Homo sapiens: one gene and its partners. The protein of the gene in region 1 interacts with the protein of each later gene in a biochemical or structural test. Each region holds a gene or a part of one and is shown in the gene's direction. Other genes may lie near its edges.

Region 1 (3,500 bases):
ATTTTGAAAAGAAGGAAAGAGGAATGTTAGGTCTTTTAAGACAGATGTTTAGTCTTGTATTGAAGGAGAGTGAACACCTAGATGTATCCTACGTATTAGACAATACTGTCTTGTCCTTTGACTTTTACTAGTCTCTTGAGAAGTTAATATTTTAAATAGGCTACTGGTACTTGCCTTGGGGAGAAAAGGTTCAGGGTTACTAATTTTGTTGAAGTTACTGAGTTAAGCAGTTTAACTCAATGAGGGGTGGGAGGGCAAAGGTGGCAAAAGGCTATCATAATTTTTCTAAATATTCCTAGTGGGATCAATAGACTTTCAAATTCTTTCTATCTTAAATATTCCATTCCCCCTCCCCCCCAGGCTCTTCCAGGAGATCAATAGCTATTATCACTAATGGAGTAATGGTACCTCTGTAGACTCTTCAGAGGTGGAGTTCTGCCAACCATTATTCTAAGTCATGTGGCTTGAATTGTTCTCTTCTTGGGCGTGGAAAGAATACAGATCATACAGCTTGCCTTTCATGTGTTAGCCTTCCCAGTAACTGAAGCAGATATTAAGTGCTTTTTCTGATTATTTTGGAAATCTATGTGTTTTTTGAATTCTACTGAGATTCAACATGGCGCTAAATGTTCATCCTCATTGCAGTCCTGGATTAACTGCAAACCTAAGAGTAGGATTTCATCTCTTGTACTCAGGGAAGCCTTATTTATTAAGCCAATCTTTAAATTATTGAAAAGAGTGGAGAAAACGATGTGTTTTTATCGAGGTAAAAGTTGCGTAACATAACTGTCACATAGTCACATCAGATTTCAAGTGCAATTGAGTGGCATTGGGTACATTCCGTGTTGTGCAGCCATCACCTATGTTGAAGAAGAGAGAAAGTGGTTATTTTTAAAAAGTGATGCCGGTCTGGACTACAGCTGGCTGGAATTCAGCACCTATTCAGGAATGTGTCGATAATGGAGTGCCCACAACAGCTCACAGCCAGCGATAATTGTCTATCCCTTTGTCTTCATTTCCAAGCGTCTGAACTGAAAAAAGGGAATTAGCTTTAGCTACGTTTGTACTGTATTTCCACTTAAAAAGTTATGGAACTTGAACACTGTATAATGTTCACCCAAATAAATAAGAACAATTTACTTGAAATCTGAGCAAATCGTTAACTCTTTGGGGATTATGGAAATTTTGCTGGTGTTCTAGTGACTCGTTTTCAGCCCTAAGGCTGGCTTTATTATCAGTGATTTGCCGCCTGTGTGGTAGTGGTTTCCTAATGAGTAGGATGCAGGGTTGAGACTGGGGAGCTCCTGCAGCATGAGGCTCTTAACTGATGGGACGCCAGCACAAGACATTCAGTACATTGTGGCTGTCAGGAGCTGGATGGGAAAAGTAGTTACTTTTCCCTTCTTTGCCCATTCCCAATATCAGCAGTCCTAACCTTATTTTATTTTATTGTATTTTATTTTAATTTTTTTGAGACGGAGTCTTGCTCTGTCACCCAGGCTGGAGTGCAGTGGGCAGTGGTGTGGTATCTCGGCTCACCGCAACCTCTGCCTCCCAGGTTCAAGTGATTCTCCTGCCTCAGCCTCCCAAGTAGCTGGGATTACAGGCACCCACCACCACGCCCAGTGAATTTTTGTAGTTTTGATAGAGACAGGGTTTCACCATGTTGGCCAGGCTGAGCTCGAACTCCTGACTTCAGGTGATCTGCCCACCTCAGCCTCCCAAAGTGCTGGGATTACAGGCGTGAGCCACCGTGCCCAGCCTCAAGGACCACTTTCTATGCTCGGTAGTCAAAGGGAAATACTACTTTTAAATGATATAAAACGTTATCTTCTCTTTGCCTTCTTTTGAAAGTTACTTAGTGTTTTACCAGATATTCCAGTCTATAATTATGTGTGCGTTTGATTGCTTGTTTTTTGTTTTTTTTTTTTTTGAGGCAAGGTCTCACTCTGTCACCCAGGCTGGAGCATGGCTCACTGCAGCCTCCACCTCACAGGCTAAAGCGACCCTCCAGCCCCAGCCACCCAAGTAGTTGGGACTACAGGAGCATGCTACCACACCTGGCTATTTTTTTGTACCGTTTTTTGTAGGAACGGGGTGTTGCCATGTTGTCCAGGCTGGTCTTGAGCTCCTGGACTCAAGCAGTCTGCCCATCTTGGCCTCCCAAAGTACTGGGATTACAGGTGTGAGCCACCACACCCAGCCCGGTCTATAATTATAATGCAGCTAAATGTTGCCTTTCTACAAAGGCTACCAATACCAGCTGCCTTATGGCCTCTCCTCTCAGAATTATTTTTCTGTATCTTCCCCAAATTCCATTTTAGGTGTCAGCTATCATTTTGATTAACTACCAAAACATATTATTTTACTTAAAATTGTCATTTGTAGAAATCTTGAAAATTTTGATATTTTGCTAAATGAATTTATGAATTTGAGTGGTAGAAAATTAGTTACACGAAAACTGATTTAAAAAATTCCCTGGGTCAGGCACGGTGGCTCACGCCTGTAATCCCAGCACTTTGGGAGGCTGAGGCAGGTGGACCATGAGGTCAGGAGTTGGAGACCAGCCTGACCAACATGGTGAAACTTGTCTCTACTAAAAATACAAAAAATTAGCTGGGCATGGTGGCATGCACCTGTAATCCTAGCTACTTGGGAGGCTGAGGCCGGAGAATTACTTGAACCTGGGAGGTGGAGGTTGCAGGGAGTTGAGATTGCACCACTGCACTCCAGCCTGGGTGACAGAGCAAGACTCCATCTTGAAAAAAAGAAAAAAAATTCCCAAAAGAAAGCTTTAATTTTAAGGTAAATAGTTATAAATAATTGGTTTGCTACCATGATTTTGTAGAAAAAATAAAAATTGTAAATCTTAAAAGACCATGTGCATGAGTCTTTTCTTTCTGTTTAAAGAACTGGTGAAGTCTTAGTTAAATTGCTCCCAGCATTTCACTTGTTAAGTGTGTGTCCTACAGAAATAGACTTTTCTTTACCTGAGTTGAATACTACTAATATGTGCTGCATGGCATTAAGTTTTGGTTATGGGCCGGATGTAGTGGCTCACGCCTGTAATCCCAGCACTTTGGGAGGTCGAGGTGGGTTGATCACTTGAGGTCAGGAGTTCAAGACCAGCCTGCTCAACATGGTGAAATCCCATCTGTACTAAAAATAACAAAAATTAGCTGGGCATGGTGGCGCATGCCTGTAATCCCAGCTACTAGAGAGGCTGAGGTAGGAGAATCACTTGAACCCAAGAGGCAGAGGTTGCAGTGAGCTGAGGTCATACCACTGCACTCCAGCCTGGGTGACAGTGTGAGACTCTGTCTCTAAAAAAAAAAAAAAGTTTTGGTTGTGAATAGGAAAGAGAGTGTTCTTACATAATTTAGATTTTTAACATAACATTAAAACAATAAAATTATTCCAAATAAACTCTTGGGCTTCTTAACCTTTGGAAGGGTACCTGTCTTTGGAGAGAGAAAGCCCATTTTGGTGAGTGGGACCCA
Region 2 (4,310 bases), on another chromosome or scaffold:
TTCCTAACCAAGAAACATAAACTCTTCATACTATACTCTTAGAATTTGTGAAAGGAATTTTCTTGTTTTTGTGGTTTTTTTTTAAATTGTAAATCCTATAGTAGGGTAAAAACTGACAATATAAAAAATGAAGAAAATATTTAATCATTTAGCTTTTGTTAACTGTCATTGGTTCTATTTCAAGTGACCTATTGGACAATTCAAATGCAATGCATATTATAACTAATGTTACCTCAATTAAAAATGATCAAACTTTCCAATTGAAAGCTAATGGAGAAAGATTTTGTTATTAGTATTTTCAAATAGGTCTTACAGTTATGAGAAGGTTCAAAACATTCATTTATATAATATGTAGCAATAGATTTTCAGTCCTATATCAAAAATAATTCATTATTTTCTTATATTCCTAAAACTTATCGATAAACATGTTCATGAATTTAAAAAGAGTAAGTCCAAATACATGTTAAAATACAGTTTTACCATGTGTAGTGTTATCATTAGTGTACCCTCTTTTTCATCCTTTATTTCTCTCTTTCTCTATTTTTAGTATAGGTTCTCTCCTTTGAATAGCTCAAAATTAAGAGTAGCATTCAAATTTATTGTAAGACACTTACAGTATAGGCTGAGAGGCAGAGACCAGAGATATTCTATAACAGAAACTGGTAAATTCTTGCAGAATTATTACAAAAGAAACCCATTGCATGTACTGGAATGTTAATAACTTCTAAGGGCTTTAATGTGTGTCTCAGAACTCTCTACTGTATACAGATAAATTCCAAATTAGAAAAGAAATAGGAGAATAATAGTTAAGTATTCTGTACTTAGGTTAGTTAAAAATAGGCTTGCTTAACATACATGCAAGGTACTGTTATCTTTATTCTTGAATTTTGCCTTTACCTTGGAAACAGAGTCTTGCTCTGTCACCCAGGCTGGAGTTGATGTGGTGCAATCACATAACCCTAACCCTAACCCTAACCTCCTGGGTGGACTCAAGCTACCTCCCATCTCAGCCTCCTGAGTAGCTGGGACCACAGGCACCATGCCACCAGCCCAGCTAATTTTTAATTTTTTATAGAGATGAGGTCTCCTTATGTTGCTCAGGCTGGTCTCAAACTCCTATGTTCAAGTGATCTTCCCATCTCAAACCACCTCAGCCTTCCAAAGTGCTGGGATTACAGGCATGAGCAACCACAACTGGCTGTTTTACCTCTTACTACTAGTGTCCATTACTGATAGTGATTTTAAAAACTTTTAAGCATATACAATATTCAGATTTGATGAGATGTTATTGCATTACACTCTATAAATGCTTAAATTATAGAACATAACAATTTTCCTTGTCTGTTTTTCCAACTAAAATATTTTATTTTTCTATATTTATCATTGGTTTATTTTCATGTCAGTTGCTGTGCTTACAGCTTTTTGTACACTAATTTATTTAATATTTGTAACAACTGTGAGAGAATGACTCTTATTTAGCCTCATATGTAGAGCCTAAGGCATAAGGAAGGTCAATTACCTTGAAGAAGACACAGAGTTAGATGAAAAATGAAACTGACATGAAATATGTTAATTTCCAATACTTCTGTTCTTAATATACTGCCTTTATAAGCAACAGGACTGTAGATATTATTTCTGTTTCCACCTGAATTGCCAGCTAAAGTTTATGGAGATCAGGGAAACCATGTCTGTAAGAGCGTCTGTAAGTTTAGAAATCGTCATTCCTGTCTCTGACTATGCAGGAAGTTCATCAAAGAAATCTCTCTAGGCGTCCACACACATGTCAACACCTACAATTGTAAAAAAACTTTCTTTCTTTTCCGTTCGTTCCTTCTTTCTCCTTCCTTCCTTCCTTTTTTTTTTTTCAGGGTCTCATTCTGTTACCCAGGCTTGAGTGCAGGCACAATCACCACTCACTGCAGCGTCAGCATGCCTGAGCTTATGTGACTCTCCTGCCTCAGCCTCCCGAGTCGCTGGAATCACAGTCCTGCACCACCATGCTCAGCTAGTATTTATATGTTTTGTAGACATGGGGGTTTTGCTAGATTGTCCAGGCTAACAACTTTCTTAATATTCAAATATTTTAAAAAATGACCTAATATTGAAGTAAGCACCACATATCCTCCCTCTGCAGCTAGCATAATACTTTCAACGTAGTAGACTCTCAATAAATATTTGTAAAGTGAATGAAGTTTCTTCAGTCTACTCTAGGGGTGTCTAATCTTTTGGCCTTCCTGGGCCACACTGGAAGAAGAAGAATTTTCTTGGACCACATATAAAATACATTAACACGAAGTATAATTTATGAGCTAAAAACAAACAAACAAACAAAAAAAACCACAAAAAATCACAAACAAATCTCATAATATTTTAAGAAAGTTTATGAATTTGTGTGGGGCCACATGCAAAGCCGTCAAGGCCACATTCAAAGCCATCATGGGCTACAGGGTAATACACCCTTGGTCTACTACATACAGCCTGGTTCAAGTATGGATACTCACTCAAGCTATGTACTTTTTTTTTTTTTTTACAGGATTTTGTTTGTTTTATCTGTCTTTGTTTCTTTGTTTATTTTTCCATTATTATACTTTAAGTTCTAGGGTACATGTGCAGGTTTGTTACATATGTATACATGTGCCATGTTGGTGAGCTGCAACCATTAACTCGTCATTTACATTAGGTATTTCTCTTAATGCTATCCCTCCCCCCTCCCCCAACCCCACAACAGGCCCTGGTGTGTGATGTTCCCTGCCCTGTGTCCAGATGTTCCCATTGTTCAATTCCCACTGATGAGTGAGAACATGCGGTGTTTGGTTTTCCGTCCTTGCAATAGTTTGCTCAGAATGATGGTTTCCAGCTTCATCCATGTCCCTACAAAGGACATGAACTCATCATTTTTTATGGCTGCATGGTATTCCATGGTGTATGTGCCACATTTTCTTAATCCAGTCTATCATTGATGGACATTTGGGTTGGTTCCAAGTCTTTGCTATTGTGAACAGTGCCACAATAAACATACATGTGCATGTGTCTTTATAGCAGCATGATTTATAATCCTTTGGGTATATACCCAGCAATGGGATGGCTGGCTCAAATGGAATTACTAGTTCTAGATCCTTGAGGAATCGCCACATAGTCTTCCACAATGGTTGAACTAGTTTACAGTCCCACCAACAGTGTAAATGTGTTCCTATTTCTCCACATCCTCTCCAGCACCTGTTGTTTCCTGACTTTTTAATGATCGCCATTCTAACTGGTGTGAGATGGTATCTCATTGTGGTTTTGATTTGCATTTCTCTGATGGCCAGTGATGATGAGCATTTTTTCATGTGTCTTTTGGCTGCATAAATGTCTTCTTTTGAGAAGTGTCCTTTGTTCACTTTTTGATGGGGTTGTTTGTTTTTTTCTTGTATATTTGTTGGAGTTCACTGTAGATTCTGGATATTAGCGCTTTGTCAGATGAGTAGATTGCAAAAATTTTCTCCCATTCTGTAGGTTGCCTGTTCATTCTGATGGTAGTTTCTTTTGCTGTGCAGAAGCTCTTTAGTTCAATTAGATCCCATTTGTCAATTTTGGCTTTTGTTGCCATTGCTTTTGGTGTTTTAGACATGAAGTCCTTGCCCATGCCTATGTCCTGAATGGTAATGCCTAGGTTTTCTTCTAGGATTTTTATGGTTTTAGGTCTAACATGTAAGTCTTTAATCCATCTTGAAGTAATTTTTGTATAAGGTGTAAGGAAGGGATCCAGTTTCAGCTTTCTACATATGGCTAACCAGTTTTCCCAGCACCATTTATTAAATAGGGAATCCTTTCCCCATTGCTTGTTTTCTCAGGTTTGTCAAAGATCAGATAGTTGTAGATATGTGGCATTATTTCTGAGGGCTCTGTTCTGTTCCATTGGTCTATATCTCTGTTTTGGTACCAATACCATGCTGTTTTGTTACTGTAGTCTTGTAGTATAGTTTGAAGTCAGGTAGCGTGATGCCTCCAGCTTTGTTCTTCTGGCTTAGGATTGACTTGGCGATGCGGGCTCTTTTTTGGTTGCATATGAACTTCAAAGTAGTTTTTTCCGATTCTGTGGAGTAAGTCATTGGTAGCTTGATGGGTATGGCATTGAATCTATAAATTACCTTGGGCAGTGTGGCCATTTTCACGATATTGATTCTTCCCACCCATGAGCATGGAATGTTCTTCCATTTGTTTGTATCTTCTTTTATTTCATTGAGCAATGGTTTGTAGTTCTCCTTGAAGAGGTCCTTCACATCCCTTGTAAGTTGGATTCCTATTTATTTTATTCTCTTTGAAGCAAT
Region 3 (4,310 bases), on another chromosome or scaffold:
CTTCAGCAAAATATTTATCTGGGTAAACAAATTAATATGTTCAGGTTTGCTTGGTGAGCGTGAAATCTGAATTGAGGAATTAAGATGGCTAATTGGCTATTATACTAAAAACCCTTTTGAGCACATGGGAGGCTTTTCAAGTGTTCAGGTTGGAGTGCAGTGATATCCTGGCTGCTCTGAGCCACACACTATGTTTGGGCTTATCACTGACCACTTGCCTCTTTTCTTTGATCTACATTGCTATGTAATCTTCCTGATTTCCACTCTGGCCTCTTATTTCTTGGTGCCATTAGTCTATATGTTTATTTTCAGTTTTTACATTCAGGTTAATTGTATTTTCTAGTTTTCATTTTATATATATTTTTTGTATTGCATATGAATTTGTGTTAACCTCCATCAAAGAAAGTTCTTGTTCTTTGACCTTTACCACTTTTTTCTTTAGTTTATTTTCGGCTTACCTAGAAGACAACACAGTAACACCTTACTTATCTGGCATCATTAAAGGATTCCACATAAGTGAATTTTTATATAACTGAAGCTTACCTTTTAACGATTTATCTTTTAAAAGATTTTTAACAGTTTGGATGAAAATGTTTCTAAAATATGTTACACTGTTCCTTACATTCTTAAAATAACTAAGGATAATTTAAGTATATCTTAATGACTTAGAATCAGCATTTTAAGTATCAATTATTGCACTGTGTTTCAATATGATATTGCCCTCAGAGGCTCTTAATTATTACAAGATAGTTTGCTTTTACATTAAATGACTTTATAGTTCTTGTTTGCCTTTCTTGTGGTTATTCTTTCTCATTTCTTAGCTCTCATTTCTTGATGAACTTGATACACTATTTTATTCACCATTTCCTGGGAAAGAAAGGGTCCCTCTAAGTACATGGGCTTTGGAACTGCCTTCCTCAGAAGCCTTTTTTCTTACTTTGGAATCCCTATGTTCTGGAAAGTAGAGGTTGCCAGAAGTCTGACCTACAGATAAGTGGATAAGTGGAATGTTACTGTTATTTTTAAAGTGCATGGATCATAATTTAAAAGATCACAAATTAGTCTTCATGCACTTTGTTGTCAAAAACATTTATTCATTGCTATGCCTGCATGAATTCAATAGCATAATTTATAAAGACAATAGCAAATTTCATTGGGGTTGATCATTAAAAGAAAAAAGGCACAACATGATTAGTTTACTGATGATACGTAGTAGCATAAGAGTTGTCCAGTTTTCAAAGCATGGCTCTTTTGGAGTGGGGCAAAGGTAATGCTGAAATATACCTCTTTTGATATATCTTTTTTTTCTGTTAAGTAATTTTCCGTAATGGAAAAGCAATTTGTTTTGATATTTTTACAATAAAAGAATAACAAAGACAAATGTTTATCAGGCTTTTTTTTTTTTCCTTAAATTACAGGAAATTCACCTTCAAATCCAAGAGCTCCTTGGCTTTATGCCTTGATTCAGACAGTGAGGATGAGCTAAAACGTTCTGTGGCCCTCAGCCAGAGACTTTGTGAAATGTTAGGCAACGAACAGCAGCAGGAAGACCTGGAAAAAGTAAGTAATATTTTCTTAAAACATCTGACAAAGATTTGTTTATCTCTTACTGTCCAAACAAATGTCTTTCATAACCATCATCAAACTAATTAGTTTTAAAGAAAATGCCTTCTCTGGCTACAGAAATCAGTCTGTTTACAGATGGATCAAGACTTACGAGAAATTCGTTGTTCTAAACAAATTACTTTCTTTTTTTGCCCTTCAAAGCTACTTTTGCATATTCGTCCTCAAATAATTACTTGCTTTATTTTGGTAGCAGTTTTTTAAGACAGGGTATCGCTCTGTTGCCCAGGCTGGAGTACAGTGGTGTAATCACGGCTCACCACAGCATCGTTCTCCTGGGCTCAAACAATCCTCCTACCTCAGCTCCCCAAGTAGCTGGGACTACAGGCATGTACCACCATGCCTGGCTAGTTTTTAAAATTTTTTGTAGAGACAAGGTCTTACTGTGTGACCTAGGCAGGTCTAAAATTCCTGGGCTCAGGTGATCCTACCACCTCAGCTTCCCTAAGTGCTGGGATTACAGGCATGAGCCACTACTCCCAGCCTGTAGCAATTGTTTATGTGAGGGAACTGTAGTAAACATTTTACATCAACAGAGCAACCAAGTAATCTAATTGTTTAAATTATGGATTTATTAATTGGATTAATATATAGATAATTATATGGATAGTTAATACTTTGAAGATCTAAGCTTTTCTAGGTGTTTGCATTATCTTATGCTACTGTATTTTATTTTAAGCCTCCCTTTTAAATAATAGAATTATTTTAGTAGTTATTTTTGTTCTGTTTCCTATCTTACTTTAAAGCCAGAGGTAGTTTGTGGTTGTTCAACTTGAATGAGAAATGTGTGAAAGTCCAAAATTCTCCCAGAAAACAACTTTTGAATATTTACATAATCTTTTTTTTTTTTTGAGACGGAGTCTCACTCTGTTGCCCAGGCTGGAGTGCAGTGGCACGATCTTGGCTCACTGCAGTCTCTATCCCCCAGGTTCAAGTGATTCTCCTGCCTCAGCCTCCTGAGTAGCTGGGATTACAGACGTACACCACAACATCTCCCTAATTTTTGGGTTTTGGTTTTTTATTTAATTTATTTATTTATTTATTTTTGAGACAGACTCTTGCCCTGTCACCCAGGCTGGAGTGCAGTGGTGTGATCTTAGCTTGCTGCATCCTCCACCTCCCAGGTTCAGGCGATTCTCTGTCTCCCTAGTAGCTGGGACTACAGGTGCGTGCCACCATGCCTGGCTAATTTTTTTGTATTTTTAGTAGAGATGGAGTTTATCCATGTTGGCCAGGCTGATCTCGAACTCCTGGCCTCAAGTGATCTGCTGGCCTCGACCTCCCAAAGTGCTGGGATTACAGGCATGAGCCACCACGCCCAGCCTAATTTTTGTATTTTTAGTAAAGACGGGTTTTCGCCATGTTGGCCAGGCTGGTCTCAAACTCCTGACCTCAGGTGATCCACCGCTGGGATTACAGGCGTGAGCCACCTCGCCCAGCCTTCTTTACATAATCTTGATGTCGTGTTTATTTTTCTCATTTATTGTTAATAAGATCAGCTAACATTTATAATGGTGTAGTAGGCATAATGATAGAATATTTACTGTATAATCTATATATATCTGGAAGAAAATAAATTGAAAATACTTAGAGTAATTATCTCTGAGTAATCTATTTTGAATGAATTTATTTTATTATTTTTATGTATTCTCCAAATTTGTACAAAATATATACTTATTTCAATCAAGAAAAAATAATGTATTCTTATGTATTTATTATTTTTAAAGTTAGACTCACCATTTAGTTTATATATTGGTTATTGATTGTTAAATAACCCAAAGCATCAAAGAAAGGAAACTTTTTAGAAATAAAGTTGCTACTTTAAATACTAATTAAGATTGCTATATTTGTAGGTATTCTGGTTTCTTCTAAAAGTAACTCTCTTCTTCAGGATTCAAAATTATGCCCAATAGAGCCTGACAAGTCTGAATTGGAAAACTCAGGATTTGACAGAATGAGCGAAGAAGAGCTTCTAGCAGCTGTCTTGGAGATAAGTAAGAGAGATGCTTCACCATCTCTGAGTCATGAAGATGATGATAAGCCAACTAGCAGCCCAGATACCGGATTTGCAGAAGATGATATTCAAGAAATGCCAGAAAATCCAGACACTATGGAAACTGAGAAGCCCAAAACAATCACAGAGCTGGGTAGGTTTAATGAAGATTAAACCTCTGTGAAACAAAACATAACTCTTTCAAAGTTTTGTAGTGACAAATAACCTCCAAATAACGGGAGATAAATAGAAAAATTAGCTGAGCATGGTGGTGTGTGACCCTAATCCCAGCTACTCGGGAGGCTGAGGCAGGAGAATTCGCTTGAACCGGGAGGCGGAGGTTGCAGTGAGCCAAGATTGCACCACTGCACTCCAGCCTGGGCGACAGAGTGAGACTCCTTCTCAGATAAAAACAAATAAAGGGAGGTGAAGTGGATCTGTATATAACAGGGTTGATGGCATTTTCATTCTGTATTATAAAAAGCTTTGAAAAATGAGAAGCAAATATTGTGACTAGTACACAGATACTAGTGGTAAAGTATGCCATATCCCTTTAGGTATACATCACTAGTAAAACTAGCCTTCTTATGTGCATTTAATATATGTTTGTGTCAGTTCTGAGGTGCTTTTCTCACCACTGCTATTTCAGAAATTCATATAATTCTTTCATTTTCCTATATCTGAATTTACACCA
Region 4 (4,310 bases), on another chromosome or scaffold:
GGCTCGGGGCCGGGGCTGCAGTTCGGACCGCCTCCCGCGACCCGCGGGGCCGGCTCGGAGACAGTTTCAGGCCGCATCTCTGCTGACCCGAGGGTGGGGCCGCGCGTGGCCGTGGAAACGTGAGTGACTGGGGCTGCGTCCACGAGGGGGACCCTCGGCGCAGAAACTTTTCTGGAAGGTGCTGTCCTCGGGCCGGACGGGCCCCGTGGGGTGACCCTGGGGCTCCGGACGGAAGGAAGGCAGGGGCTGAGACCACTTTGATCGTTCGACGATAGAAAAAAGTAGCGCGGGGCGGGGTGCAGGGTTCCAGCTGTCCAGACAGCAAAGTTCATGGAGCCACTTTGTCCTCCTGTCGTTGCTGGGGAGAGCCTGGCTTGCTGCTTGCTTCATGTTCACCTAGGGTGATGAACTTTTTGGCTTCAGGAAAGATCACAGTCCTGCCCCCCCGGGAGTACTGGAGCGGCGCAGCTGGGAGCGCCGAGAAGCGAGCGAATCTGTCGCAAGGGTCACAGCTCCTTGGACTTCGGTGTAAATGCTGAGCTCTGCCGCGTAGTTCTGAAAGACTTCCACAGACCTACTCTGTAGGAAGTCAAACGTCTTTTGCTTAGTAGGCATCAGTTGTATGTTAATTCATAAACTTGGATTATAATTAGTTTGTCGATTTAAAATGGTGTTTGAGGTTGCTTGAATTATTTTTCAAACATTATCATAAAAATACCCACCCACCCCCTGGGAAGTTCGCTTCATAAAGAACTTCAGTGCAACCCGTATGTAAAATTAAAATACATTTAAAATAATTGGACAAACCAATTTAAATGTTGCTACAACCCCATTTAATCTGTAAATTGCATGTGCTGCTGCTTTCCATGGTAATGTTGGTGTGGAATATGTTTGGAAAAAAGGCAGTAGTGTCTGAAGCTGAGTTGCTGGCATTGAAAAAGCAGAGTGTCTGGAAGGATGGCTTCCTATTTAGCAGTGGTGTTGTTCCTGTTTATAAATATTTGTACTTAGTGGCTTTGTTGATAAAATACTTTGCTTGGAGTATCAAAGAAATATTAGGTAACAGAAATACTTCTTGGTAATTTTGCGATGGGATATCTGTTTCTCTTGCCCACAAATTAGGCTTCACCTGGATGGAAGCTTGCTTGTGATGTAAAATAACTTCTGTGTTATTAAATTTTAAATTTATATGATACAGTTTTCTGTGAAATGACAATATTGTCTTTAGAACTTTGATTACTGATGAAAAGAAGTGATACCATTTTGTAACCCTAAATCCATTTAAAAATAAATGGTACACATATTTTAACATTATGATAAATAAGTTGAATAAATTGGTATTACTTGGATACGTTGAACACAGCTATTTATTTTTATAATTAATTACTATATGAGACTAGGGCTTTCCTCCTGGTGGCAGGCAGCCTGCATTGTTCCTCTAGGAGTCTTCAAAGCTGTCTTTAGTTTGAGAATATACTCTGGAAAATATTACCATTTAGAGAAGCTTCAGCGTTGGCCTGAGTTCTTATGTTTACTCTAGTGTTAGGTATATGTCTTATAACTATTTGGAGATAAGATCTGGAAAGGAAGGGGGTAACATTTTAGACAATCCCTCCCACTCTCAGCCCCTCCCCTAGTTTACAAGTAGTATTGTTGGCCAGGCACGGTGGCTCACTCCTGTAATCCCAGCACCATGGGAGACCGAGGCGGGCGGATCACCTGAGGTCGAGAGTTGGGAGACCAGCCTGTCCAACATGGAGACACCCTGTCTCTACTGAAAATACAGAATTAGCCGGGCGTGGTATTACATGCCTGTAATCCCAGCTACTCGGGAGGCTGAGGCAGGAGAATCGCTTGAACCTGGGAGGCAGGTTGCAGTGAGCTGAGATCGCGCCATTGCACTCCAGCCTGGGCAACAAGAGTGAAACTCCGTTTCAACAACAACAAAAAAAGGTAGTATTGTTGCCTTGTTTAAAGAGACTGCAAAAAGGTTTTAGGAGAATAATCTGGTACTGTTTAATTTAATGGTTACTGTTTGAGGAAAAAGAACTCTGGAATTTCTGTGTATTTAAGTAGCCTTTTTAGCAAGGCTGTTTACTTCAACTAGATTTTTTAATAGCTTTTGTTTCTTGAGAAATTGCCTAATTACACTTGCCAAATTACACTTTAAAATCATATACACTGTCCTCTAACATGCCCAGGAAGGTTTACATTTAAATACTGAAGAGGTTTTCTTTTGTTTTTGATAACATTTTAAAGTCCATTGACTTTAACAGATGTGAAGATGTTTTTGTTTAAGCAGTAGATGCAAAAGTAAAACCTACCAGCTTCGCTTTAAAGCAAGGCTAGTGCATTCACTGCAGTTAAAAAATAATAATAATAGCCCATCACAGTGGTGCTTCTGTAGTCCCAGCTACTCAGGAGGCTGAGGTGGGAGGGTCCCTTGAACCTGGGAGGTCGAGGCTGCAGTGAGCCGAGATTGCACCACTGCACTCCAGCCTGGGCGACAGAGACGGACCTTGTCTCCAAAATAATAACAAGTCGTAATAATAATAAAGCAAAGCTAGGTTTTCTGGATTATTGTGGCAGAACTGTTCTTGCTGTCACTAATACAGAGGGATAACATGCTAGAATAAATGTGGGGACTGAAACTGAGGACCTAAGTCACAAAGTATCCTGGACCTTTACTGTTAACCCGGTTCTTTAAATCATAGAGAGCTATTATATAAATTTATACACATTCTCTCATTTAACAGGGTATTCTAGATGTTGGTATATTAAAATAAAGAAAATAAAGACCTTTTTTATTTGAAATATTCAAATAATTTATAATATATTTTATTAATGTTTGTATATTGTGTATAAATGTAATAAATACCATGTTTATATAATGTTATATGTATATTAATAATTGTATTCAAATAGAAACATTTGAGTAAAAATGATGGCAGTATAGACATAGTCATTAATAGAAAGTATTAATAAATGTTGGGTCCCGAGCACTGCACCTCATTTAAACGTTTCCTCTTAATGGCTTCGGGCGTTGTCACCCGTGCGTGCCTGGGAACTGTTCTCAGGTTCCCTGGGGTGGCTGGAGCGGCTCCTGCCGCTGTGGAAGCTGGGCCGGCATTTGTGTTGTGTTGTGTTGTGTTGTGTTGTGTTGTGGTTAGCACAGGAACAGATAGGCCCGGGAGAGCCTGTGGCTGGTGGGCTTTGTTCTGGGCAAGCCGTGCGCTGGCCCCTAGGCTCCCTGCCAGCCCTCTCCGTAGACCCGTCCGGGGCCGTGTGGGTTGTCCCGGTGTCCTGCTCGCGAGTGACGCCTGTCCTTCTTGCCCCCAGAGATCCTGAAGGAGCTAGACGAGTGCTACGAGCGCTTCAGTCGCGAGACAGACGGGGCGCAGAAGCGGCGGATGCTGCACTGTGTGCAGCGCGCGCTGATCCGCAGCCAGGAGCTGGGCGACGAGAAGATCCAGATCGTGAGCCAGATGGTGGAGCTGGTGGAGAACCGCACGCGGCAGGTGGACAGCCACGTGGAGCTGTTCGAGGCGCAGCAGGAGCTGGGCGACACAGCGGGCAACAGCGGCAAGGCTGGCGCGGACAGGCCCAAAGGCGAGGCGGCAGCGCAGGCTGACAAGCCCAACAGCAAGCGCTCACGGCGGCAGCGCAACAACGAGAACCGTGAGAACGCGTCCAGCAACCACGACCACGACGACGGCGCCTCGGGCACACCCAAGGAGAAGAAGGCCAAGACCTCCAAGAAGAAGAAGCGCTCCAAGGCCAAGGCGGAGCGAGAGGCGTCCCCTGCCGACCTCCCCATCGACCCCAACGAACCCACGTACTGTCTGTGCAACCAGGTCTCCTATGGGGAGATGATCGGCTGCGACAACGACGAGTGCCCCATCGAGTGGTTCCACTTCTCGTGCGTGGGGCTCAATCATAAACCCAAGGGCAAGTGGTACTGTCCCAAGTGCCGGGGGGAGAACGAGAAGACCATGGACAAAGCCCTGGAGAAATCCAAAAAAGAGAGGGCTTACAACAGGTAGTTTGTGGACAGGCGCCTGGTGTGAGGAGGACAAAATAAACCGTGTATTTATTACATTGCTGCCTTTGTTGAGGTGCAAGGAGTGTAAAATGTATATTTTTAAAGAATGTTAGTAAAGGAACCATTCCTTTCATAGGGATGGCAGTGATTCTGTTTGCCTTTTGTTTTCATTGGTACACGTGTAACAAGAAAGTGGTCTGTGGATCAGCATTTTAGAAACTACAAATATAGGTTTGATTCAACACTTAAGTCTCAGACTGATTTCTTG
Region 5 (4,310 bases), on another chromosome or scaffold:
AACCTTTTAATCTGAAAGCTAAACAGCTAGATATAAATTTGTCTACCCAACATTTGTACAAAGTAAAAATTATTAGAATATTCATTTCAAATTATGTGTGATGTTATCATATAACATATTATAGATTAACTCAAATTATTCTTAACTGTTACTTAACTATGACAAAACAACTTAGAACGCTTTGCTAATACACAAGATAGTATAAGGATAAAAATTCTTTATAGTACTAGCTCATAAAGAGTGTTCTATGGAATAGTAGTGGATGTCATTTAATAACTATAAATTCAAAATAAGCATTGTAAATATCAATACCATTCAATTTTTTTTTGTTTTTTAAACAAGTTGTAAGCCTACCCTATGGTAAATGGATATGGTAACACAGCATAATTTCCTCAAAAAATTACTTTTGTGATATACTTTTAAAGGATTATATGAATATATACATAATTATAGATGAATGTGATGCTGTGTGTCATTGTATCACCAAATCTCTGTCCAATCTGTTAACAGACTCTTAAATAAACCATTTTTCTCAAGTTGTTACTGGCCTGTATACTGTATTACTTGTTTTTCAGCTTTCCTTGGTACATTCTTAAATTTCTGCATTCCGCCACCATGCTATCACCCTAATGGATCAACCTTTTTTGTTTTGCTCCATTCTCTCTGTTGTAAATCTGAAATTGATAATTTGTTTGTCTCAGAAAATATTATTTTTCAAGTTCTAGCGTATTGCCTACAAAAACCAAAAGAATTAAGTGTCTGACACTGTGAGGTTCAGCAAAACTGTGCATATATTTTGCTACCTGATTTTTTGCCAGCAAATGAGTGTTTTCTATTATAAATATAGTATATATTGCTTAAAAATTTGGAACAGAAAAGAAATTACTCCAATTAGGATGCCACCTAAAGTATAAGCATGTAGCTGTACTTTGAGAACACTAAATTGCATGCAGGTTTGTAGTGACTAGGTCTTCTTGCCTTTACTGAAGGAGCAGAATGAAGTCACAGATAATGGATAACCAAATCCATTTTGTGGTAAGAACTTCCTTACTTTCAATGTCTTGAAGAGATGAAGTATGTTACCAAAGGAGATTGGGTTTTTTAATATTACAGATGAGTGACATAGATTGTTTGGGAGTAAGTTTTTATATGTAAGTTTTTATGTTTTTAAACACATACTGACAACTTATGACAAACCTTTGGAAAGTTTTAAAACTCTGTTGAAAGGTTGTGCAAGCTGCTGATGGAATCTGTGAGCCTTTCTTGTTTCTTATCACGTTTTTTGGCAGAGCACATTTCTTCCTTCCCACCAACAGGTTTTGCCCTTTTTTTTCCCATTAAGATTCCTCCTGAGATTGGCTGTCTTGAAAATCTGACATCTCTGGATGTCAGTTACAACTTGGAACTAAGATCCTTTCCCAATGAAATGGGGAAATTAAGCAAAATATGGGATCTTCCTTTGGATGAACTGCATCTTAACTTTGATTTTAAACATATAGGATGTAAAGCCAAAGACATCATAAGGTTAGATAATTTTTTTCTATTTGGTTTTACTAAATTTATTTCAGATTTTCTACTCTCTGTGACTTTGATGGACATATATTGTTACTATTTAGGGAAAAATAAATAGTAATATTTGGCATTAATATGCTGTGTGTCATTTGCCTTTCATTTAATGAATGTGTTTCTGTGGTGCCACTGTAGAGATTTCTCATTCTTCTTAGCCAGACTAATGTTGAGAGCGGCTTCTCCTCCTTCTGTTTCTTTTCAGTGGAGTAGACTCTAAAAGAAAATAAGTATTGCTATTTGGTCTCTGGTTACCAATTACACAATCTAAAGAAATACAGCACAGTATAATAACTTCTCACACTGTATTTCATATAGCAACTAGTTAACATATGCCTCTTACATCTTAAAGCATTATAGCTACTGACATCATGTGAAATTACTAACTTCTATTTTGCCCATTAGGATGAGTAATCTACTCACCTTGATCAGTTTTGAAAGCACCAAAACTTCTCAAGTATCACTGTTTCTGGTCTTTACACTTTAAGCACTTTAAATATCTTTGGTAATGGATTTTATCCTCCTTTTTGTTCCCTTTCAGCACATCGGTCTTATTACTTTCTCATAAAATCCTTTGCTCCCTTTTCCACAGTTACTGTATTAACGTTGCAGACCTCAGCTCTGTCATCACCTCTCAACTTGACTGTAATATCCACCAAGGCAGAGACCATGGCTGTGTTCACTCACTATTCAAATCTTGGCACCCAACACAGTGCCTGGCATACAATTAATAGTTGTTTAATTACCAGTGATTTATACTTACTCATTCTCTTCTGCCTAAAATCTCTTAAATTTATATTTAACTTCATCTGTTTTTATGAGGAAGGATTTTGTTTTCTGAACTCCTGAGCTTGATTTCATTTTAAAGGAGTTTGTTATCTTTTGTGCTAATTGTGGCTACCCTTCATCCTACCCAATTATTTTTCTCTCTTGAAACTGGAAAAGATGGTCATATAAAAATTGGTTCAGTTCTTACTAAACATTTAGTAGAACTAGCTTTCAGTGTATTATACTGTATTATCTAACTAAATATTTTTAATATTTAATATTTAATTTAATATATAACTAAATATTTTTAAACATGTTTAACATTTTCAGAAAAGACAGAAAGACCTAGAGCAGATTAGAAATTGTAGGCATCATTTGCTTTTTGAAGAAAGACATTTTTTCAAATAGTGGTGCATTCTTAAGAAATAAATCAAGAAAGGTAATGTTGCTTTTTGGTCATATCATCAGGAATGTTGGTCAGATTCTTATTAGTTACAGGAATGAATTGATCACTACTCTGATGTAAAATTCACTTATGATTTAGTCTTTTTCTCTAATTTGAAACTGTGGCAACATTTTAACATATTTCAAAATATATCTTTCTCTATCCATTATATTTTTGATAACACTTTGACTCTACTATTAGTTTAAAGGTGGTTTTTTAGCTACCTAAACACTTCTATTTCATTCAGGTTTTACATTAAGATCATTAGGAATGAAAGCTAACATCTGCTGATAGTATAATAGTTTATATTTATTTATGATGTTATGTGATCTCACTATCCATATATACTATTATATGCATATGTGATATACATGAATATATAGCTATACATCATATATACCATATATGAATATATACACACACATATATAATGTAACTAATATGACCCTATTATCAAGCTTTAACAGTATACATATATCTCTACCTTGTTTCTATGTCATATGGACTTTGTGAAATTTTGAACTTTATAATTTATAGGGTTTTTCTTTTCTTTTCTTTTCTTTTTTTTTTTTTTTTTGAGACTGAGTTTCACTCTTGTCACCCAGGCTGGAGTGCAGTGGCCTGATCTTGGCTCACTGCAACCTCTGCCTCTTGGCTTCAGGCGATTCTCCTGCCTCAACCTCCCAAGTAGCTGGAATTACAGGCACCTGCCACTGTTCCCGGCTACTTTTTGGATTTTTAATAGAGACGGGGTTTCACTATATTGGCCAGGCTGGTCTCAAACTCCTGACCTCATGATCCGCCCACCTCGGCCTCCCAAAATGCAGGGATTACAGGTGCGAGCCACCGCACCTGGCGTATAATTTGTAGGGTTTTTCATACTATTTAAAGACATTAGAATATGTATACATGTATGTATATGTGTGTATATATAGAGGTATATATATATTGCATATCGTATTCTAATTAGTATTGCAAACATATTTTGGCCTTTTGATTATTTCTGGTGATAGTGTAACATGTTTTCTTTGGTGATTTTACCAAACATTATCAACTACCCTAAAATCTCTAGCAAAATATATGCATTAACAGTACTCTGAAAGACATGTACATTATTAGTTATATGAGATATGCACTCTTCTGGATACTATATTTTAGAATAGTGTGACATGTAAAAGAACTCACCTAAATCTCAAGTATACTTTTAAGCAGTTTATTATTTTATTTTTATCTTTCAAATACTAGGTTTCTTCAACAGCGATTAAAAAAGGCTGTGCCTTATAACCGAATGAAACTTATGATTGTGGGAAATACTGGGAGTGGTAAAACCACCTTATTGCAGCAATTAATGAAAACCAAGAAATCAGATCTTGGAATGCAAAGTGCCACAGTTGGCATAGATGTGAAAGACTGGCCTATCCAAATAAGAGACAAAAGAAAGAGAGATCTCGTCCTAAATGTGTGGGATTTTGCAGGTATTTCTTTCTATAGAATTTTAAAATTCACTTTTACCATTTGTTTGGAACAGGGA
Region 6 (4,310 bases), on another chromosome or scaffold:
ACAAGACTCCATCTCAAAAAAAAAAAAAAAATAATAATATGATTCCCTAGATGAGTTTAAGTACAATCTCATATGGTAATATAATCTCAGGATTTAGTACTTTTTTTAAAACTATTCAAATAAACTGCCTTTGTACAAATGTAATTGTTACTATTGCACATTATTATTAAATAGGCACTCATGAAAAGCATGGTATTGAATATCACTGGTAACAAGAGGATGCTGCTTTGTTGAGTCTCATTTACATACTAATTGCCACTGCTTTGTCTCTGTAGCCACAATAAGCCACCCTTTTGATGGTAGTTAGCTTGAATTATATTGCACCAGTGCCAAGTTTAAATTAGCTATGTTAAGTAAAAGAAGCAAAAAGTGGTAGAAGAAAGGTCATTTATTACACTGAAATTTATTTTAGAGGCTTGCCTAATGCTATAAAGGTAAAAATGACATTTTAAAAGTATTTCATCAGGAAAGTTTTATGGGTTTGAAATGTACTTTGGGTTTGTGGCTTTTAAAATATTAACATTTTTGAGATACCAGAATATTCTGTATGTAAAATGCTACAGTTAAATAGTAGATAAATGATTCCAAAACTTGAAACATTTTTAGGATAGAAAATCAAAGGATGTCCAAGTGGATTTTTTCTTTTATAAATATTTTTATGTGTATGAGAATTATATATTTTGTCTACCATTAGGTATGTTTTCCTGAATTAAAAATATAAAAAATGTATCCAGGACAAAATATCAAATGCTCAATATTCTGCTACCTGTTAGTTATTTAAGACCGAAAAATTGCCTTGTATCTTACTGACTTGAATTTCTCTGGGCTTTGCTTTTGAGTGATTAAATTCTCAATCAACTCAGTGAACTAATTCATCGTTCAGTGGTGCTTTCATTAAATTTGCCTTAAGGTATACAGCAAGCTTGTCTAACCCCCGGCCCAACACAAATTTGTAAACTTTCTTAAAACATTATGAGATTTTTTTGCAATTTTTAAAAAGCTCATCAGCTCTCGTTAGTGTTAGTATATTTTATGTGTGGCCCAAGATAATAATTCTTCCAGTTTGGCCCAGGGAAGCCAAAATATTGGATACCCCTGGTATATAGCTTTCAATGTTAGATTATCTGCTGCTTTAAAGACTAAACTTGATAATGTTTAATGGTAACATTTTATTTGTCTCCCAGAATTCTGCCATGTGAGAGGCAAATAGTTTCAAATGATAGGGATGGAAGGTACTTTGAGAGATTACCTGGATTCCAGCCTTCAGCCTACTAGTAATATCTGTTAAGTAAAAACCTAGTATCTTTCTTTATGAACCCTGGCCATTGGCTTTCTTTAATCTAGCTGGCCATATTGAAGAACAATATTATGAATAAAAGATATTTGATTTTTGTATTAATATGTACACTTTTAAAGTCTCTTATCCTTTGGAAAATATCTTTCGTTACCCTTTTTATGTTGAGAATTGTTAGGAATAAATTTTTCTGTTTTTTTTTTTTTTTTTTTTGAGACGGAGTCTCACTCTGTTGCCCAGGCTGGAGTGCAGTGGCACGATCACGGCTCACTGCAACCTCTGACCCCTGAGTTCAGGCGATTCTTCTGCCTCAGCCTCCCGAGTAGCTGGGACTACAGGCGTGTGCCACCACACCCAGCTAATTTTTGTATTTTTAGTAGAGACGGGGTTTTACCATATTGGCCAGGCTGGTCTCAAACTCCTGACCTCGTGATCCCCCCGCCTCAGCCTCCCAAAGTGCTGGGATTACAGGCATGAACCACCGTGCCCAGCCTAAATTTTTCTTTTACTTAACACAGTTAAGACTGAAAATTTTCCTAAAAATGTAGATTATGCCTCTAGTAGAAAGTATGGTGAGTTTTTAATAATGAATATAAGAAATCTGGATAATAAAAGCTAAGTATTAAACATTACAATATGGTATTCATTACTTCTAGAATATTTGACCATTAAAGTATTTTAAGTAAATTTTAATAAAAATGGTTTAGAATATAAGTAAGAAATCTGTTTACTTTTCACAGGTCATCAGTGCATGTGGTATGTGCATGCGCATGCATGTAACTGATTTTTATCAATTGAAGCAGAAAGGAATGTGTTGTTGACCTTTAAGGAATACCTGTGAAAAACACAAAATCCTTAAAGTACTAATGTACTAATGAATACTTAAGCTAATTGAAAAGTAAACTTCTAGCCAGGCATGGTGGCTTACGCCTGTAATCCCAGCACTTTGGGAGGCCGAAGCAGGCAGATCACTTGAGGTCAGGAGTTTGAGACCAGCCTGGCTAACATGGTGAAAACTTGTCTCTACTAGAAGTAAAAAAAAAAAAAAAAATCAGTCAGGTGTGGTGACAGACACCCGTAATCGCAGCTACTCGGGAGGCTGAGGCAGGAGAACTACTTGAAGCTGGGAGGCAGAGGTTGCAGTGAGCTGAGATTGCACCGCTGCACCCTAGCCTGGGGTACAGAGCAAGACTCCATCTAAAAAAAAAAAAGAAAAATAAACTTCTTTATAAATCACTTTGAATATTTCATGATTGTGTATCTCAAGTCTTTTCATTCATGGTAGAGAGTAGGTATTCCTAAATTGTTGGATGAAAACTCTATTGATAAAATGTTATTTTATTTTATTTTAATAGACGGTATCTCAAACTCGTAGGCTTAAGCGATCCTCCCACCTGGGCCTCCCAAAGTGCTGAGATTATAGGCATAGGCCATTGCAGCCAGCCAATATGTGATTTCTTAACTTTTCCTTTTGGTAACCAGGAACAGGTTTAAGATGTATGAGTGAATTATTGTGACTCATACATCTGTTAAGTGCTTGCTTGAATCATAGCCACCTTACTGTATTGACAATTAGTTACTGATGACTTAGTTCTTGTTAAGTAGAGACGTTCTGTCTGACACAGATATTTGCCAGTAATAGAAAATATGCTTGAGTTTCAGTTTCATAAATATGTATATTATAGCTTCACTCAAAATCTTAATGTGGATATGGACAAAGTTCTTTATTATACTAATGTTAATTCTGTAGTATAATTACAAAGAAAACCATTTACACTTACATTGTGTGTTACCATTTACAAAGTGCTTTGGTTTTTAATAACAACCCCTAAAAGTAGGCAGGGTAGGCTTTTTATAAGCCTTATTTGGCAAATGGGAAAAGTAAGACTCAGAGATCAAGTGACTTGCCCCAAGGTCACACAGAAGTAGAGTCAAAATTTGATCCTAGATTTTGTAATTGAGATTCCTTCTACTATATTGCATCGTTCTCTGTATATTTATCTTCCTTATCATCTCAATATTATATAACAATAATATAGGGGTCAGAAACCTAAGACCAAATTCCACACTTAAAAAAAAAAAAACCTCGTCTACATGCTTAGTGGTATGCTAACTCTATGATAATTCAGTAGATCGATTATGCTCCCCATTTCTTTTCAGTGGTATGCACCTTGAAAAACTACATATTACTGCCTGTCACAAGATATAACCCATCTTAACACTGCTAATCTTGGTCTTTTAATGTAGAAAACTTGGTTGTGTATTAATAGTAACACACAAGAAAAACACTTTTAAAAAGAATATTTGATGACACATTTAAAATTTTTATTGTGACAGTTGAATAAATGTTATTTTTATCCTTAAATGAGTTTATTATTATTTTATCCAAAAATGTACTACTGGTTCAGATTTGTCATTTTGGCTTTACAGCAGTTAGAAGAAAAAAGTGAAGATCAAGAAGACAAGGAATGTTTAAAACAAGCAATAACAGCTTTGCTTAATGTTCAGAGTGGTATGGAAAAAATATGTTCTAAAAGTCTTGCAAAACGAAGACTGAGGTGAATATTTTTACTTTTTAAAATATCCTTTTTTCCCTGAATATTGTGGTGTAAATTCAGGGATCCCAGTTCCCTCCTCAAGTAAACAATGAAGAAAATAGTTTTAGTGACAAGCCTGGTCTTTTAGAGGAAGTGACATCAAAGCCAAGAGAATTGTTATTGTTTGAAAAACCTTTCATATTTGTGCATTTTCCTTGCATACTCCCAGACAAGACCTCCTGAGAGTCAACTGGTAAGCTGAAGGAGAGACAGAGTAAAATGTATCGGGTAGATTTATGTTGGCATCGTTATTCTGTCAAAGTAAAATTATTAGTGTCCTTTATTTTAGGGATTATATAACTTGAGGCATTAATTCAGATAACATTGCTTCCACTTTCCTGATTATAATATGTGCTACATGTTTTTAGCTTTGGGTCTTGTCCATTTAAACTCTTCTAAATAATTTATTTTAATCTTTC
Region 7 (4,310 bases), on another chromosome or scaffold:
TATATACCTGAAAAATTCAGTTTAACATATTAAACACTACAGGCCAGGCACAGTGGCTCACGCCTGTAATCCCAGCACTTTGGGAGGCTGAGGCGGGCGAATCACGACGTCAAGAGATCGAGACCAACCTGGCCAACGTGGTGAAACCCCCTCTCTACTAAAAATACAAAAAAATTAGCCAGTTGTGGTGGCGTGCATCTGTAGTCCCAGCTACTTGGGAGGCTGAGGTAGGAGAATCGTTTGAACCCGGGAGGCAGAAGTTGCAGTGAGCCGAAATGGTGCCACTGCATTCCAACCTGGCAACAGAGTGAGACTCCATGTCAAAAAACAACAACAAAAAACACTCCTTGGAAAAAGTATAGGTACATTCTATATAGGATTAGTAGACTGTCAGAATCACTTGAAGATGTTCCGAAAGCATGACATATCAACAAAGGACATGTGAGTCTAGAATGGTGATCCCTAGGACAGGCCATATTACTGCATGCAAAGCAAGTCTTTGTTAACCTTATGACTTGCTCAGGAAGCAAAGTGTTTCATGTCCTAATAGGATAGTAGTATTTTCTGTTATGTTACATTTTAGGAAATTAGGAGTTTTGCATTGTCTTGTAAGAAGGTATTTTAAAAATTTTCAATGAAAATAATGAGAAATAGGTTTCCAGTGGTTTTATGCTTTTGGGGAAGAGGTTACTGATGTTTAGCAAAAGATGCTTATATATTCTTAATAGAACAAACCTGAGAATTAGTTCTTAAAGAGTTAAGGCCCATAAAAGAAACTGTAAGTGTTGGTACTCTTGTAGCTGGGCCACAGATCAGATCCTTAGTATGATAAAATTTGGTATTTTTGTGCTTCAATTTTTGGAGACCATTCAATGATCACTTACATTTTATATTGTCTTTCATTGTGAAACATATATTATAGCAGAGGTGGGAGTCATTAAAAATTCTACATGTTGTACACTACATGTATAAGGGTATATTTGGCGCAATGGAGGTAGGATTGTCTGTGTGCCTCTAAAATTAACCTCTCAAGTAGTTAATCTGATGATGACAAGTATGTCACTTTATTGATAAAAGGGAGAATTAAGACTATTCTCAGTATTATGTTGGTCAGTACACAAAATATATCATTTGTTTTTACCTGTGAAATGAAATATCTTTCATCCTATTAGCCAGAAGGGAGAAAGCCTTGGCCTGAAAATAACACTTATCTCAAAAAGTTGGGAAATGTGGTCCAACTCTGTGCCCAGGAAAAGAGGAAATAGATTTTGATGACTACATAGTCTCTGCACTGCTTGCCAGCTCATAAGTTTACTTCTTTGCACTGTTTGTTTTCATTGCTCAAAAACTATTTTCTGTCACTCTATGAGATTTAGTCTAACCTGATTCCTGGCTGTGGAAAGCAGTTTCTACTTAAGAGCCGATGAGAAATGGTATATTCTTCTCAATCACTCACAGAATGACTACCCTGGAACAAACTAGGAAGACCCAAAATGAACCAGTTTGATTTTAATACATACATAGATGCTGAAGGAGCCTTTTTTTAAGACCTTGCCTTCTTAGTCTTTGGAGAACAGAGTACTGAAACAAGAAAACTCACAGATTAGTAGTATTTCTGTGTGTTCTACAGTGAGGTTTTAAGAGCTGTATTATGATTAATCAGTACATGACATATTGGTTCATATTTATAATTAAAGCTATACATTAATAGATATCTTGATTATAAAGAAAGTTTAAACTCATGATCTTATTAAGAGTTATACATTGTTGAAAGAATGTAAAAGCATGGGTGAGGTCATTGGTATAGGTAGGTAGTTCATTGAAAAAAATAGGTAAGCATTAAATTTTGTTTGCTGAATCTAAGTATTAGATACTTTAAGAGTTGTATATCATAAATGATATTGAGCCTAGAATGTTTGGCTGTTTTACTTTTAGAACTTTTTGCAACAGAGTAAACATACATATTATGAAAATAAATGTTCTCTTTTTTCCTCTGATTTTCTAGATGTGACTTACTTAACAGAAGAGAAGGTATATGAAATTCTTGAATTATGTAGAGAAAGAGAGGATTATTCCCCTTTAATCCGTGTTATTGGAAGAGTTTTTTCTAGTGCTGAGGCATTGGTACAGAGCTTCCGGAAAGTTAAACAACACACCAAGGAAGAACTGAAATCTCTTCAAGCAAAAGATGAAGACAAAGATGAAGATGAAAAGGAAAAAGCTGCATGTTCTGCTGCTGCTATGGAAGAAGACTCAGAAGCATCTTCCTCAAGGATAGGTGATAGCTCACAGGGAGACAACAATTTGCAAAAATTAGGCCCTGATGATGTGTCTGTGGATATTGATGCCATTAGAAGGGTCTACACCAGATTGCTCTCTAATGAAAAAATTGAAACTGCCTTTCTCAATGCACTTGTATATTTGTCACCTAACGTGGAATGTGACTTGACGTATCACAATGTATACTCTCGAGATCCTAATTATCTGAATTTGTTCATTATCGTAATGGAGAATAGAAATCTCCACAGTCCTGAATATCTGGAAATGGCTTTGCCATTATTTTGCAAAGCGATGAGCAAGCTACCCCTTGCAGCCCAAGGAAAACTGATCAGACTGTGGTCTAAATACAATGCAGACCAGATTCGGAGAATGATGGAGACATTTCAGCAACTTATTACTTATAAAGTCATAAGCAATGAATTTAACAGTCGAAATCTAGTGAATGATGATGATGCCATTGTTGCTGCTTCGAAGTGCTTGAAAATGGTTTACTATGCAAATGTAGTGGGAGGGGAAGTGGACACAAATCACAATGAAGAAGATGATGAAGAGCCCATCCCTGAGTCCAGCGAGCTGACACTTCAGGAACTTTTGGGAGAAGAAAGAAGAAACAAGAAAGGTCCTCGAGTGGACCCCCTGGAAACTGAACTTGGTGTTAAAACCCTGGATTGTCGAAAACCACTTATCCCTTTTGAAGAGTTTATTAATGAACCACTGAATGAGGTTCTAGAAATGGATAAAGATTATACTTTTTTCAAAGTAGAAACAGAGAACAAATTCTCTTTTATGACATGTCCCTTTATATTGAATGCTGTCACAAAGAATTTGGGATTATATTATGACAATAGAATTCGCATGTACAGTGAACGAAGAATCACTGTTCTCTACAGCTTAGTTCAAGGACAGCAGTTGAATCCATATTTGAGACTCAAAGTTAGACGTGACCATATCATAGATGATGCACTTGTCCGGGTAAGTTGGGCTGCTAGATTAAAAACCTAATAATGGGGATATCATGATACAGTTCAGTGAATTCATTTTAAAAGTGACTGAAAAAAATGATACCATATAGCATAGGAACACATGGACATTTCTGATCTTATATAAGTATTATACTTTTGTTGTTCCTGTGCAAGTTTATAGATGTGTTCTACAAAGTATCGGTTGTATTATATAATGGTCATGCTATCTTTGAAAAAGAATGGGTTTTCTAAATCTTGAAAACTAAATCCAAAGTTTCTTTCATTCAGAAGAGAATAGAGTGTTGGACAAAGACCAGAACAAGAGAAATGTGGAGATACCCAATAATAAGTGTGGATGTGCAGTCTTGAACTGGGAGTAATGGTACAGTAAAACCATACCATAAAATTATAGGTAGTGTCCAAAAAATTCCATCGTGTAAAATTCAGAGTTGCATTATTGTGGACTTGATGAAGTGACCATGGCAGATCAGTGCCTGTTGCCAGTAAGAGTTGAGTCCTGCTGGGCCACTTAGAATATCCCTGTGTGGACGGCACTGCCTGGCTGTGGTAGTTTCTTCCCACTTAAAAATTCATAGAGACAACTCTGGGTCTTGGAACTTCTGGAAAACAGCAGCTATTCCAAAAATCTGGGGATTAGTGGTGCCTGTAACATCAAGTCCAGGGAGATTGAGCAGGGAAATACTGGAAACTCAGGTACTCATCCTAACTTCCTGGTTTTCCAGATGGGGTTGCCATTTGTTCCTTTTCTTTCCTCCACAAGATAATTTTAGTGTATCTGTTTAAGAATATAAGAGTGGCCAGAAGACAGAAAGCAGTCGTCAGTCACATTTCACCAAAATTTACATTTGTCTCAGGTGCATTATCGCAGAGCTTTATTGTATTTCTAGTATTAGCTATCCCTGTCATTGCTGCTACTTTTTTATCATCTTCAAGTAAAATTTAATGTCAACAAAAATTAAGGTAGTTAATAATACTATAGTATACTAGTAAAGTTGTCTGACACAGACAACTAGGAAATGTGATTTTTACTTTAAAATGTATTTTAGT

What was found.
Region 2: the proteins of YWHAG (region 1) and SAMSN1 form a complex in vitro, tested with the Homo sapiens proteins (one study listed by BioGRID).
Region 3: the proteins of YWHAG (region 1) and USP37 form a complex in vitro, tested with the Homo sapiens proteins (one study listed by BioGRID).
Region 4: the proteins of YWHAG (region 1) and ING1 form a complex in vitro, tested with the Homo sapiens proteins (one study listed by BioGRID).
Region 5: the proteins of YWHAG (region 1) and LRRK2 interact in a biophysical measurement, tested with the Homo sapiens proteins (one study listed by IntAct).
Region 6: the proteins of YWHAG (region 1) and SOS1 interact in a biophysical measurement, tested with the Homo sapiens proteins (one study listed by IntAct).
Region 7: the proteins of YWHAG (region 1) and UBE3A form a complex in vitro, tested with the Homo sapiens proteins (one study listed by BioGRID).

The regions. Positions count from the first base shown.
Region 1 is NC_000007.14:76,352,492-76,355,991, reverse strand, and holds part of YWHAG (14-3-3 protein gamma), read left to right. Parts: intron 1-3,500. UniProt on the Homo sapiens protein: Adapter protein implicated in the regulation of a large spectrum of both general and specialized signaling pathways. Binds to a large number of partners, usually by recognition of a phosphoserine or phosphothreonine motif.
Region 2 is NC_000021.9:14,539,543-14,543,852, reverse strand, and holds part of SAMSN1 (SAM domain-containing protein SAMSN-1), read left to right. Parts: intron 1-4,310. UniProt on the Homo sapiens protein: Negative regulator of B-cell activation. Down-regulates cell proliferation (in vitro). Promotes RAC1-dependent membrane ruffle formation and reorganization of the actin cytoskeleton. Regulates cell spreading and cell polarization. Stimulates HDAC1 activity.
Region 3 is NC_000002.12:218,474,090-218,478,399, reverse strand, and holds part of USP37 (ubiquitin carboxyl-terminal hydrolase 37), read left to right. Parts: intron 1-1,418; coding exon 1,419-1,560; intron 1,561-3,514; coding exon 3,515-3,770; intron 3,771-4,310. UniProt on the Homo sapiens protein: Deubiquitinase that plays a role in different processes including cell cycle regulation, DNA replication or DNA damage response.
Region 4 is NC_000013.11:110,715,890-110,720,199, forward strand, and holds part of ING1 (inhibitor of growth protein 1), read left to right. Parts: coding exon of another isoform or gene 1-119; intron 120-3,339; coding exon 3,340-4,043; 3' UTR 4,044-4,310. UniProt on the Homo sapiens protein: Cooperates with p53/TP53 in the negative regulatory pathway of cell growth by modulating p53-dependent transcriptional activation. Implicated as a tumor suppressor gene.
Region 5 is NC_000012.12:40,304,443-40,308,752, forward strand, and holds part of LRRK2 (leucine-rich repeat serine/threonine-protein kinase 2), read left to right. Parts: intron 1-1,342; coding exon 1,343-1,524; intron 1,525-4,024; coding exon 4,025-4,254; intron 4,255-4,310. UniProt on the Homo sapiens protein: Serine/threonine-protein kinase which phosphorylates a broad range of proteins involved in multiple processes such as neuronal plasticity, innate immunity, autophagy, and vesicle trafficking.
Region 6 is NC_000002.12:39,023,552-39,027,861, reverse strand, and holds part of SOS1 (son of sevenless homolog 1), read left to right. Parts: intron 1-3,724; coding exon 3,725-3,852; intron 3,853-4,310.
Region 7 is NC_000015.10:25,369,508-25,373,817, reverse strand, and holds part of UBE3A (ubiquitin-protein ligase E3A), read left to right. Parts: intron 1-2,005; coding exon 2,006-3,252; intron 3,253-4,310. UniProt on the Homo sapiens protein: E3 ubiquitin-protein ligase which accepts ubiquitin from an E2 ubiquitin-conjugating enzyme in the form of a thioester and transfers it to its substrates.